Linked DNA regions of Homo sapiens. The protein of the gene in region 1 purifies or fractionates together with the protein of each later gene. This does not show direct contact. Each region holds a gene or a part of one and is shown in the gene's direction. Other genes may lie near its edges.

Evidence for each region.
Region 2: the proteins of ZFYVE1 (region 1) and KCTD6 purify together in Homo sapiens (affinity purification with mass spectrometry; 2 studies listed by BioGRID and IntAct, with this or other methods). This does not show direct contact.
Region 3: the proteins of ZFYVE1 (region 1) and SUCLG2 purify together in Homo sapiens (affinity purification with mass spectrometry; 2 studies listed by BioGRID). This does not show direct contact.

The regions. Positions count from the first base shown.
Region 1 is NC_000014.9:72,975,094-72,978,746, reverse strand, and holds part of ZFYVE1 (zinc finger FYVE domain-containing protein 1), read left to right. Parts: intron 1-512; coding exon 513-610; intron 611-702; coding exon 703-820; intron 821-3,025; coding exon 3,026-3,196; intron 3,197-3,653. UniProt on the Homo sapiens protein: Plays a role in the formation of lipid droplets (LDs) which are storage organelles at the center of lipid and energy homeostasis. Regulates the morphology, size and distribution of LDs.
Region 2 is NC_000003.12:58,495,063-58,498,715, forward strand, and holds part of KCTD6 (BTB/POZ domain-containing protein KCTD6), read left to right. Parts: intron 1-3,302; exon of another isoform or gene 3,303-3,650; 5' UTR 3,651-3,653. UniProt on the Homo sapiens protein: Probable substrate-specific adapter of a BCR (BTB-CUL3-RBX1) E3 ubiquitin-protein ligase complex mediating the ubiquitination and subsequent proteasomal degradation of target proteins.
Region 3 is NC_000003.12:67,497,610-67,501,262, reverse strand, and holds part of SUCLG2 (succinate--CoA ligase [GDP-forming] subunit beta, mitochondrial isoform 2 precursor), read left to right. Parts: intron 1-2,967; coding exon 2,968-3,129; intron 3,130-3,653. UniProt on the Homo sapiens protein: GTP-specific succinyl-CoA synthetase functions in the citric acid cycle (TCA), coupling the hydrolysis of succinyl-CoA to the synthesis of GTP and thus represents the only step of substrate-level phosphorylation in the TCA.

The DNA.
Region 1 (3,653 bases):
TTGAATATTTCTGGAACTTCTCTCCAGCTCTAACAAAAAGCACTCACATGTCTTCATTGGTGAGGGTCCCTTTGTTTACTGTTTTAAGCTTATTTTCTTCTCATTCTGTTGAGCTTGTATGTAAGGGTAATTTATATCGAACATTCATTCTTTTTTTTTTTTTTTTTTTTTTTTTTTTTTGAGACAGAGTCTTGCTCTGTCAGCCAGGCTGGAGTGCAGTGGCACAATCTTGGCTTACTGCAACCTCCACCTCCTGGGCTGCAGCAATTCTCCTGCCTGAGCCTCCTGAGTAGCTGGGATTACAGATGTGTGCCACCATGCCCAGCTAATTTTTGTATTTTTAGTAGAGACAGGGTTTCACCATGTTGGCCAGGCTGATCTCGAACTCCTGAGATCGGGCAGATTGCTTGAGCCCAGGAGTTCACAACCAGCCTGGGCTGGTAAAACCCCGTGTCTATTAAAAAAACAAACAAAAAACAAACAATAAGCTAGCAGAGTGTTTCCTGTTTCAGGCCTGCTATGAGAGAGGCGAGGAAGTCAGTGTAGTGCCCAAAACATCTGCTTCCACTGACTCCCCCTGGATGGGTCTCGCAAAATATGCCTGGTCTGGGTGAGTTTAAACAACATGGCTCAAGGTTTTCTGGTGCGTTTGTCTCCCCAGGCACCTGGCTGGGTAACAGTATTGATTTGCTTTCCTTGTAGGTATGTGATCGAATGTCCTAACTGTGGCGTGGTCTATCGTAGTCGGCAGTACTGGTTTGGAAACCAAGATCCTGTGGATACGGTGGTGCGGACAGAGATTGTGCATGTGTGGCCTGGAGTAAGAACTGTTGGATTTCTCTGTTTTTCTTTATCTTGTGTCGTTCAGTTTTTCATGTGTATAGAAAACTGGAACCTGCTTAAAATTAAGGTTAACCATGAATTTCAGAATGTTGGCGGTTTAGAAAGGCATGATCTGGAGAGCTTTTTTGTTCTCTAGACCAAAATTGTTTTTATTTTTTCTTGCATATATATTAGAAGTACAACTTTAAATGAAATAAACTAAAAATCTATAGTTTTACTCCTTTGGCAAATAAAACGTTTTTGCATGTTCTACTCATTCATTTTCTATATGTGTATGTTTTTCTAGATGCAAATATTTACATGCCTTTTTCCTGCTTTTTTTCCTCACAATGCTATTTTATTTAGTTTTATTTCCACCTTTTTAAAAAGATCATTAAAATGCTAGTCACCATCTTCGTGTAAGAAAGCCATTTTTTTGTTATAGGAAATTTTCTTGAAGTATATTCTAAGAAGTGGGATTCCTATAGACGCTTAATCTTTTTTTTTTTGAGACGGAGTTTCGCTCTTGTTCCCCAGGCTGAAGTGCAATGGTGAGATCTTGGCTCTCTTGGCTCACTGCAATCTCCACCTCCCGGGTTCAAGTGATTCTCCTGCCTCAGCTTCCCGAGTAGCTGGGATTACAGGCACGACCGCCACGCCCGGCTAATTTTGTATTTTCAGTAAAGACAGGGTTTCTCCATGTTGGTCAGGCTGGTTTCAAACTCCCGACCTCAGGTGACCTGCCCACCTCGGCCTCCCAAAGGGCTGGGATTATGGGCGTGAGCCACCGCGCCCAGTTTAATGATTATTTTTTAACTTTTGAATTCCAGATGTCAGAAATACAAATCTGTTTGTGAGGCAGTGATATCATGCTTTCATTCTGCATTAAATCACTGTTCACACTTAGCATTGTCCATAAATCACAACAAATCCAAAACCTTTTCCTTTCATGGAAAAAAGGCAAGTGATTATCCCTGAGGGACTTATTTTACTCTGTGTCATTGTCCTCGCTGGGTGATTCCTAAAGCCACCGTTCAGCCTAGGAGTTCTACCTGCAGGTCCTCTCCTGAGCTTTCCTGGATCCTATAGGTACCATAAAACTGAAGATTTCCTTATTTTTTAAACTTTTTTTTTTTTTTTTTGAGATGGAGTCTTGCTCTGTCACCCAGGCTGGAGTGCAGTGGTGTGATCTCGGCTAACTGCAACCTCCACCTCCTGGGTTCAAGCAATTCTCCTGCCTCAGCCTCCCGAGTAGCTGGGATTACAGGCGCGTGCTACCACACCCAGCTAATTTTTGTATTTTTAGTAGAGACAGGGTTTCACCATGTTGGCCAGGATGGTCTCGATCTCTTGACCTTGTGATCCACCTACCTCGGCCTCCCAAAATGCTGGGATTACAGGCGTGAGCCATCGCACCCGGCCGATTTCCTTATTTTTCTCCTCCTTTTTCTAATTTTCTGGCCCACTGAAATCTGTTATTATATAGTAGTCTCATTATGGGAGCCCACCTCCTTGGCATAATGGTTTATTCCATTATGTCCCAAGGATTTAACGTGGCCTTATAGCGAGAAAGTAAAGGTGGTAAGATAGTTTATGTTCCAGGAAAACAGGACTGCAGTAATTTACTCTCAGGTCACATTCTTCACAGTCCTCGAAATTAGGAGGATACAGATGCCTTCCCTGCTGTTTGTTTGCTCCTTCCTTCCTTCCTTCCTTCATTCATTATTCAGCATACATTGTTGTGTACCTTGTGCCCAGCACTGAGCTAGTTACTTTACAAAATACAAAAATGACAAAGAGTTATTGTCAGGGAGTTCAGAGTTTAATAGGGAAGTCAGATACCTAAATGGATATTGTACTTAGACACACAGAAATAGGATTCCTAGAGATGTCCAAGTATTAGAAGAACTGAGAGGAAAGGTTCTTAACTCAGCCTGCGGTGCGGGGCCCCCTGGAGGAGGTGTCATCTCCTGTATTATATGGGCTTAGTAAGTCCTGAATTGAACAGCTACACATCAAGTCTTATGGTCACTTTGAAGAGAATAAAGCCAGAGGGATTCCTGGTGTGTCTCCGTTCTTCCCTGCCAGGGAGTTAGTGGTTCTGAGTTGGCCACGGTGAGTGTGCAACTCACCAAACATCCCTCTTCCTCCTTCCTTTCACTCCCTTCTCAGAGCATGATGGAAGCCTGCGTTTTCATTTCAGACTGATGGGTTTCTGAAGGACAACAACAATGCTGCCCAGCGCCTGTTGGACGGGATGAACTTCATGGCTCAGTCGGTGTCCGAGCTTAGCCTTGGACCCACCAAGGCTGTGACTTCCTGGCTGACAGACCAGATCGCCCCTGCCTACTGGAGGCCCAACTCCCAGATTCTGGTATGGTGTGCCAGGATGCCCCTCCACTCCTGGCACAGCCCATCCTACTTAATGCCGCTTTGCCCTGTGCTAAGCTTGTTCTGTGAGGGAGACGCAAACATTTTCTGCCAGTGCAGTGAGCTCTGTGAGTACCGGCAAGGGGAGGAGTCGTTGAGGCAGCCAGTTTCTCTTTGCCCATTGATTTCCCTTCGTGTTTTCCTGCAAGTATTTTCTGTTTGGTGAGTTTTAGTTTCCTTGTGTGTGACGACCAGTGAATATTGCTTAGATATGTGAGGACCCAGATAAGAATCTGGAGGAAAAGGGGTCTTTAGAGGTTATTTAGGGTCATCCTCAGCTTGATCCATTAACGCTACAGCACCCAGAGCAAGAGAGCACCCAGCTTCAACCCAGACACTTAGTGAAAGGAAACTCACTGTCCACCAGGCTTCCTTTCCATTCTCAGATAACGCGTTACTAG
Region 2 (3,653 bases), on another chromosome or scaffold:
TCGGTTGCATTTGCTGTCTTTCAAAACCATCTTTAGTTTTAGTAAGGAAAGTCACTATAAAGGAAAAATTTTTTATTGTTACCATTCCTGGTAGATTTTCTGAAATATTAGATATTTCTTTGCTTTCATCAAGTAAAATAGGCCTATTTGATACCCATTTCAAGATCTTCCTTCTGCTGCCTGTCTTGTGGTCATTTAACTTCTCATTAAGCCCTCCACTGGAGACTGTGCCAGAAGGGAGAGAAGATGAAAAGCAAATGAATCATTTTCTAATTGTTAGTAGCTCTGGAAAATGATTCAGTAGAAGAGATTGAAACTATTCTGGAAATTCTTTGGGATTGTATTTCATTCATCTGCATCGTTTCAGAGATGTTCCTAATGGTCGTCAATTCAGAATTCAGAAGCCGATCATTATCCAGCTATTGGATAACAGGGAATTTTTCATGCTTTTTTTTTGTTTGTTTGTTTCTTGCTGTATTTAAGCATCTCCACAGAAGATATTTAGAAGCAGGTAGAGATAAAATTTAAACTAATCAATACTGTTTTTTCCCTTTGAACTCTTTAATGCACAATTTGATTTCTTTAGACAGTTTACTCATTGTTATTGGAAGTGACTAATAGTAACTTTGCTTCAATTTATTTTGATGTATCTTATACACAAGTATAGGAAGGCTTTTGGGTGGTTTTTAAGAAACATGGGCTGTAGATTCCCATAATTGCTTTCCTGAATTATTAAGCGTGAGCTTTCATTACATCTTTGTACCGGAACTTTTGCTTTTGCTGTGGAACAGATTCAGGGACATCGTCTAATTTTTTTTTTTTTTTTTTTAGATAACTGCTCAAGAAGTTACCTTGTTTTGATTTAGCAGTAAAAAAGAAAAAAAGGGTTAATAGTGGACAGACTTTTCGTTAACGGCTGCAACATTGATGTCTGCTTTTTTCCTTGTCTTTGATCTTCTGTTTCTCATTTAATCATTTGGATATTCACGGATTGGAGTTCTTTATGTCACTACAGACAGGACAGCAACCGTTATTCACACTAGTTGAATGGGTTCCTGCCTTTTTTTGGTGGGGGGGCCTCAGGAGAATTTTTACAAACCCATTATGACTGTTTAGTTAGGCTGAGTTACTGTAAAATTTGTAAATAAAACCCTACTGGATGGATAGGGTTAATAGATGGCTATAGAGAGTTTAAAGTTAAGCTTTTTCAATTTCTTGTCTCTTGGATTCTGTTCTTTCAATTTCTACCCTAGGAGGGGATTTATGGAAAAATCTAGACTAAGAGTCAGAACATGCAAGTTCTTATCTAGTTACTTCCCAGCTGTGGCGCCCTCAGCTAGTCACTTAATCTGCCTTGTTTCTCTGTTTTGCATCTTTAAGATGAGGATAGTAATCCCTGCTCGGCCTACTGGTATCAGGAATGTTGTAGGGGGAAAAAAAGTCTTTCATGCCCCTGTCTATTAAATTGTTTCTTCCTTCTAGAATCCCTTCTCAGGTTGTCCGAATTTTCTTTCAAGGATTCAACTGAATGGGCTCTTCCCAGAAGTCCTCTATTTCCCATTTGAAATCTTGCTTTTCCCCTCTCACGGGCCTCTGCTGGTCCATCTGTTATACAGCACTTTGAATTCTGTTCTGTACTTCAGTCATTGCATGTTGCCTTCCATTATAGATGGAAAGCTCCATGAGGGCAAAGATTGTCTTTTTCCTCTTTCTGTGTGTCCGCATTGCACATAGGCACCCCCTCCACTCCATAGGTGACCCACAATAATTGTTGGCTGAATGAATGATTATTGAGGCTGTCAGAATGAATACTTTGGGTGATGGGAAAATGCCAAAGATGAGCATCTTACCAGAACTTTTGGATGAGTGGCCTTTTAAATTGCTCAGTTACTAATCTGTTGTTATCAGTAACTGAATCAGATCCTGGCAAGACAAATTGGCAAAGCCCATTTCTTGGTCCTGTTTACTTCGGATACTATTTGTGAAGCAAGTCAGAGGAATGAAAGACTGTCATAACAGTCTTGAATTTGACATTTGTTCCATTTCTCACCCCATAGCATGTGGAGGCCTGTCTATATCCAACTGCTGAGTGTAAAGAATAAAAACTGACTGCCCCATAGTCTGGTCCACATTTTAGTTGTGTGCTTTGAAGGATTTGCAAGGTAGAGAAATAGATGCTTCAGGCTCTGATTTCAGCCCATGCTGTGCTATGCAAATGTTCTCTACATGCCTGAGTGACCTTTTGAGAAAGAGCCTTTGTGATCTTCTGTAGCTAGGGCTTGTTCTGGGAATTCTGTGCCAGATTCCTCTAAAAGTGGGAAAAGTGAATCTGTTAAAGGACCACGTAAAAAAGCCAGTGCTTTTCCTGGATGAATACCAATAAGTCCATGTTTCTTACCATGTCTTGCCAGAGCTTTAGAAATTTGCTCTGCAGTTTGCTTTACAGGTTGATTTGGGATTGAAGTGTGTGAGAGGGAACTGACTAAGGCAGTTCAGTAGCTGGGAAACTGTTTGTTTAAATGCTTTTGAATTGTAGATAAAAATAAATTCACATTGGCATCATTAGTATCTGAGCATTTCTCAGTGTCTTAAGGCTGGCTCTCCATGAGTGCTGGCTGATTGACTCTCATCTATATCGGTAAGGTTCTTTTTGCCCCAAATTGTGCTCTTTAACACTTCGGCATTTAAATCACTTTCTATTTGTTTTAATTGTACAAAGAGAAATACATCATTATTTAAAAGCATCATCTTTTTTTTTTATATTGTAAGATAAATACCATTCTGATGTATTTCTCTTGGAAAGGGATGCTGGTATCCTGGGAGGTTTATGATTTTTGATGTTTTTACTCAGGTGATTGGCTTGTATAGCTGAAATGCTGATGAAAAGGAGTTTTCCCTTCTCCCTTTTTCTTTTCTTTTCTTTTTTTTTTTTTTTTTGAGATGGAGTCTCGCACTGTTGCAGGGGCTGGTGTGCAGTGGCACAGTCTCGGCTCACTGCAACCTCCGCCTCTCGGGTTCAAGTGATGCTCCTGCCTCAGCCTCCTGAATAGCTAGGATTACAGGTGCCCACCACCACGCCCAGCTAATTTTTTGTATTTTTAGTAGAGATGGGGTTTCACTATGTTGGGCAGTCTGGTCTTGAACTCCTGACCTGGTGATCCTCCTGCCTCAGCCTCCCAAAGTGCTGGGATTATAGGCATGAGCCACTGCGCCCAGCCTGTCCCTTTTTCTTAAATGACCTTTTTGGTGAGGACCATTATAGGTTTGTACCAGGATAAGGTTGTAGAGTTAATCATAATATTCTCTTATATAAATTCTAAAAATTGATGTTCTAAGAAGAGAGGTAGAATTTGAATGACTGGGTTACTTCCTAGACTCTTCCTCCTTCTCTTAAGTACAGTATAGTTCTTTCTCTGAAAATCTTCAGTCTCTTAGTTCCAGATGGGTTCTCTATGGTAAGAATACAGGACATGTAGAAGGCCCTAGGGGAATGCTTTCTTCCCCAGATCTTTGCCCTGTAGTAGGTTTCAGCTGAGCAAGGACGAGTAGTTTTTCTGGTGTTTGGCCTCCTCTGTTGGGTGGAAAAAGACTTTCTTCTCTATTTTCCTAGTTATATATGCTATCATATGTCTGTTTTTCTCCTCTTGAAGTTT
Region 3 (3,653 bases), on another chromosome or scaffold:
CAGTTCAATTTGAATCCCCTTTCTTAAGTCCTAAGTCCTCTAAATAAATTACTTCATATTTAGGTAGTGTTTTTAACTTCCCAAAACACTTAGACATACATGCAATGATCCAATTAGGTTGTTTAGTTTTCTCTACAAATTAACAGTCGGCACAGGACCGTTGTAGATATACACCCCTTTTATCCCATAGTCACCATCTTGAAGCTCTGGGTTAACTGCAAAGTTCTGTCAAGATTGTTCCCTGGAGAGAACGTCATACCACAGAAAAACATCCTCTGAAAATCTAGCTTTGCAGGCATTTAGTTGGGATTGCCTTTTGAACTTTGAATACATACCCATTAATTATTCTCTCTCTGAAGCAGCTTGTAACTGTAGTCTTTGTAAGGAGCAAAGGTCAGCTTGAAACTATTTTGATTTACTTGTTTATTGATCTCAACCAAGAATTCCTTTATTTGAAACTCTTCCCTTAGGAAGTCAATTTGATAACCTTAGCCCATTCATTTTGAAGGTGTCAGTTATAAGTAGTCTTGCCAATGAGTAATGGAGGAGCTAAAATTACTAATAAATTAATTAGAATGCATTTATAAACCTAGTGGAAAGCCATGTACGAAGTTGCTTTTTTATTGATTATTATACCAGTCATTAACTGCTGAGAAAATTCCCCTGTAGCAAGCAGAGAACATTGGCCAATTCGTTTGGTAATTGTAGGATTCTGTCAATAAGCTTTCAATATTTTGGAAAGTAATTACTCATTCACTCCAACCATTCACAATGTGTGGACAAAGTGGTTGGGCATTTTGGGGCAAGACTAAGGATTTAAGCAGACATTAACTTCCATATAAGATTCTCTCTTGTCGCTCAGTGCTACTTTAAGTCATGTGCGGTCTATATATATACTTATAACAAGTATTCTTAGATGTTAATATGCTGGTCTACACAGATTTGTATCAAAGTGCTTGAATATTGTGGTAGGGAAACCCTTGGAGAAAACCCTCTACCTGGGGTCTCTAACGCCAAGATGCCATATACAGCCATGTTTTATTTTCATAAGAAGCAAGTATAATTAGGAGATTATAGCCACTGCTTTTCAGTGAGTGAGAAATGTTCTGTGGCTGTTTCCCTTTCAAGAGTCAGGTGCCTGTCAGCAATGCTGGAGGAGAATAGGTAGTATCTGTAAATTATTGTTCAAAGATTCCTGGCTATCAATATCCCAAGTTAAGTAAAAGAACATTGGCCAGGTGCAGTGGCTCACACCTGTAATCCCAGCACTTTGGGAGGCTGAGGTGGGCAGATCACAAGGTCAGGAGATCGAGACCATCCTGGCTAACACGGTGAAACCCCATCTGTACTAAAAATACAAAAAATTACCTGGGCATGGTGGCACATGCCTGTAGTCCCAGCTGCTTGGGAGACTGAGGCAGGAGAATCGCTTGAACCTGGGAGGTGGAGGTTATAGTGAGCCGAGATTGCGCCACTGCACTCCAGCCTGGGCAGCAGAGTGAGACTCTGTCTCCGAAATAAATAAATAAATAAATAAATAAACAAACAAACAAACATTATGATGACATGGCATCACAGAACACTAATTTCTACACTAAGAGAGATAATAAAAGGGGTCAGATACCCAGATACCAATAATGCCACCCTCTCCACTGCAGTCTCTCCCTGATTGTATGTATAGGAGATCTGTAAATCAAGGAAAGTGCCCTGTAGTCTGTCTCCTATTATGGAATGAGTTTTGCTGGGTCCAGGAGATTTCCACCAGCTCCAGAAACTAGAGACAATTGTGCTAATAATGCCTGGCATCCTGGCTTTGTGACTGACCAGTCTTGGTCTTTTCGTGTCTTATAACTTGAATCTGAAGCACCATAAGATGGTCCTGCACGAATCAAGGGCATGGCCCTTGTTTTAAGGATTGTTATTGCCATTTTTTCCAATTAAAAAACCAAGGCCCAGAGAAGAACTAGGTTATTTTATCAAGGTTACAGAGTTAGTAATGTATGCTGGAAATTGCTAAAAGTATATATTTTAAGTGCTCTCCCACACCAAAAAGAAAAACCAAAAACTATATGAGAAGATGGATGTGTTAATTTGCTTCAGTGTAGTAATCATTTCACTGTGTTTAATTATTTCACTGTGTTATATGTATATCAAAACATGATGTTGTATGCTTTAAATACACAGTTGTCCCTCAATATATGCAGGGAATCGGTTCCAGGAATCTCAGATATACCAAACTTCGTTCATATTGCACAATTCCTGCAGTTGGCCTTGCAGAACCCATGTATGTGAAAAGTCGACCCTCTGGGGCTTTACATCTTGAGAATAAAAATCCAGCTATAAGTGGACCCTCACAGTTCAAACCCATGTTGTTCAAGACTCAAGTGTATACAATTTTTATTTTTAATAAATGTTACAGAGTTAGTTAAGGATCAAATAAAAATCGAGCGATTCTAGTCTGGCATTCTTTCCACTAAATCTTTTGGAAATACTAGACAGGATACTGATTCAATAAAAATTTCACTTTACCATATCAAGAAAAGGACAATAGGGGACAAAATAATTAATAATATTGTCTAGTCTCTCTTTACATAGAAGAGAAAGGTGATAATTAGTGGTTAAATACTAAAAATATATAATAAAAATAATGAATCAAAGCTGTATCTATGAAGCTGTGCCAGTCTGTAACTTTTAATGGTTGATGGCAACTTTTGGGGTTATTCTATTGAAATGAGAACAACAGGTAGAAATTACTATGTTCTTTACTAGAACGTAAGTCCCTTGACAACAGGGACCAAACCCTAAAATTTAAAGGTCAAGAAAGCCAAAGCAGCCTCTCCTGCCTGTAACATGTGAAAAAAAATGACAGTACTTAACTTTCCCTTCGCTTGTGCCTACCAGCCTGAAGAACTTAATTTATAGATCCTCAAGAGATATTCAAGTATGATTGTTTTCTTCTTTATTTAGTTGTCTGTTTTGATGCCAAGATAAACTTTGATGACAACGCAGAATTCCGACAAAAAGACATATTTGCTATGGACGACAAATCAGAGAATGAGCCCATTGAAAATGAAGCTGCCAAATATGATCTAAAATACATAGGACTAGATGGGAACATTGCCTGCTTTGGTAAGAAGCAGTTATATCAAAAGAATGCTTTGTGGATTCTTATAGAATTTAGGAAACCTTGATTTCTGAAATGTCACTTACCAAGAAGAAGTAAGCACATAAGTTTTTTTGTAGCTGAAAAGTCTTAGGAAAGTATCCAAGTTTCTTCTCAAAGTTGTTTTGATTAATGGTCACTGGTGTAAAGCAGAATTTCTCAACTCTGGCACTATTGGGAGTTTGGGTGGGATAATTCTTTACTGTCCTGTACATCATAAGATGTTTAGCATCCTAACCTCTAGATACTACTAACAACCCCCACTTGTGAAGACAAATAAACCCATGTAAATCAATAAATTAAAATAAATGTCTTCAGACAGTTCCAAATGGCTGTGGTATGCAAAAATCACCCCAACTGAGAAATATTGACTTAAAACATCTCAGTTAAACTTTGCTTAGTAAAAAATTAGAACCTTTGCTGCTCAACTCAGTATTAATATGCAGAACTCTTCTGAAATTTAGGTTTAAAACAAAATTCCTTTATCAGA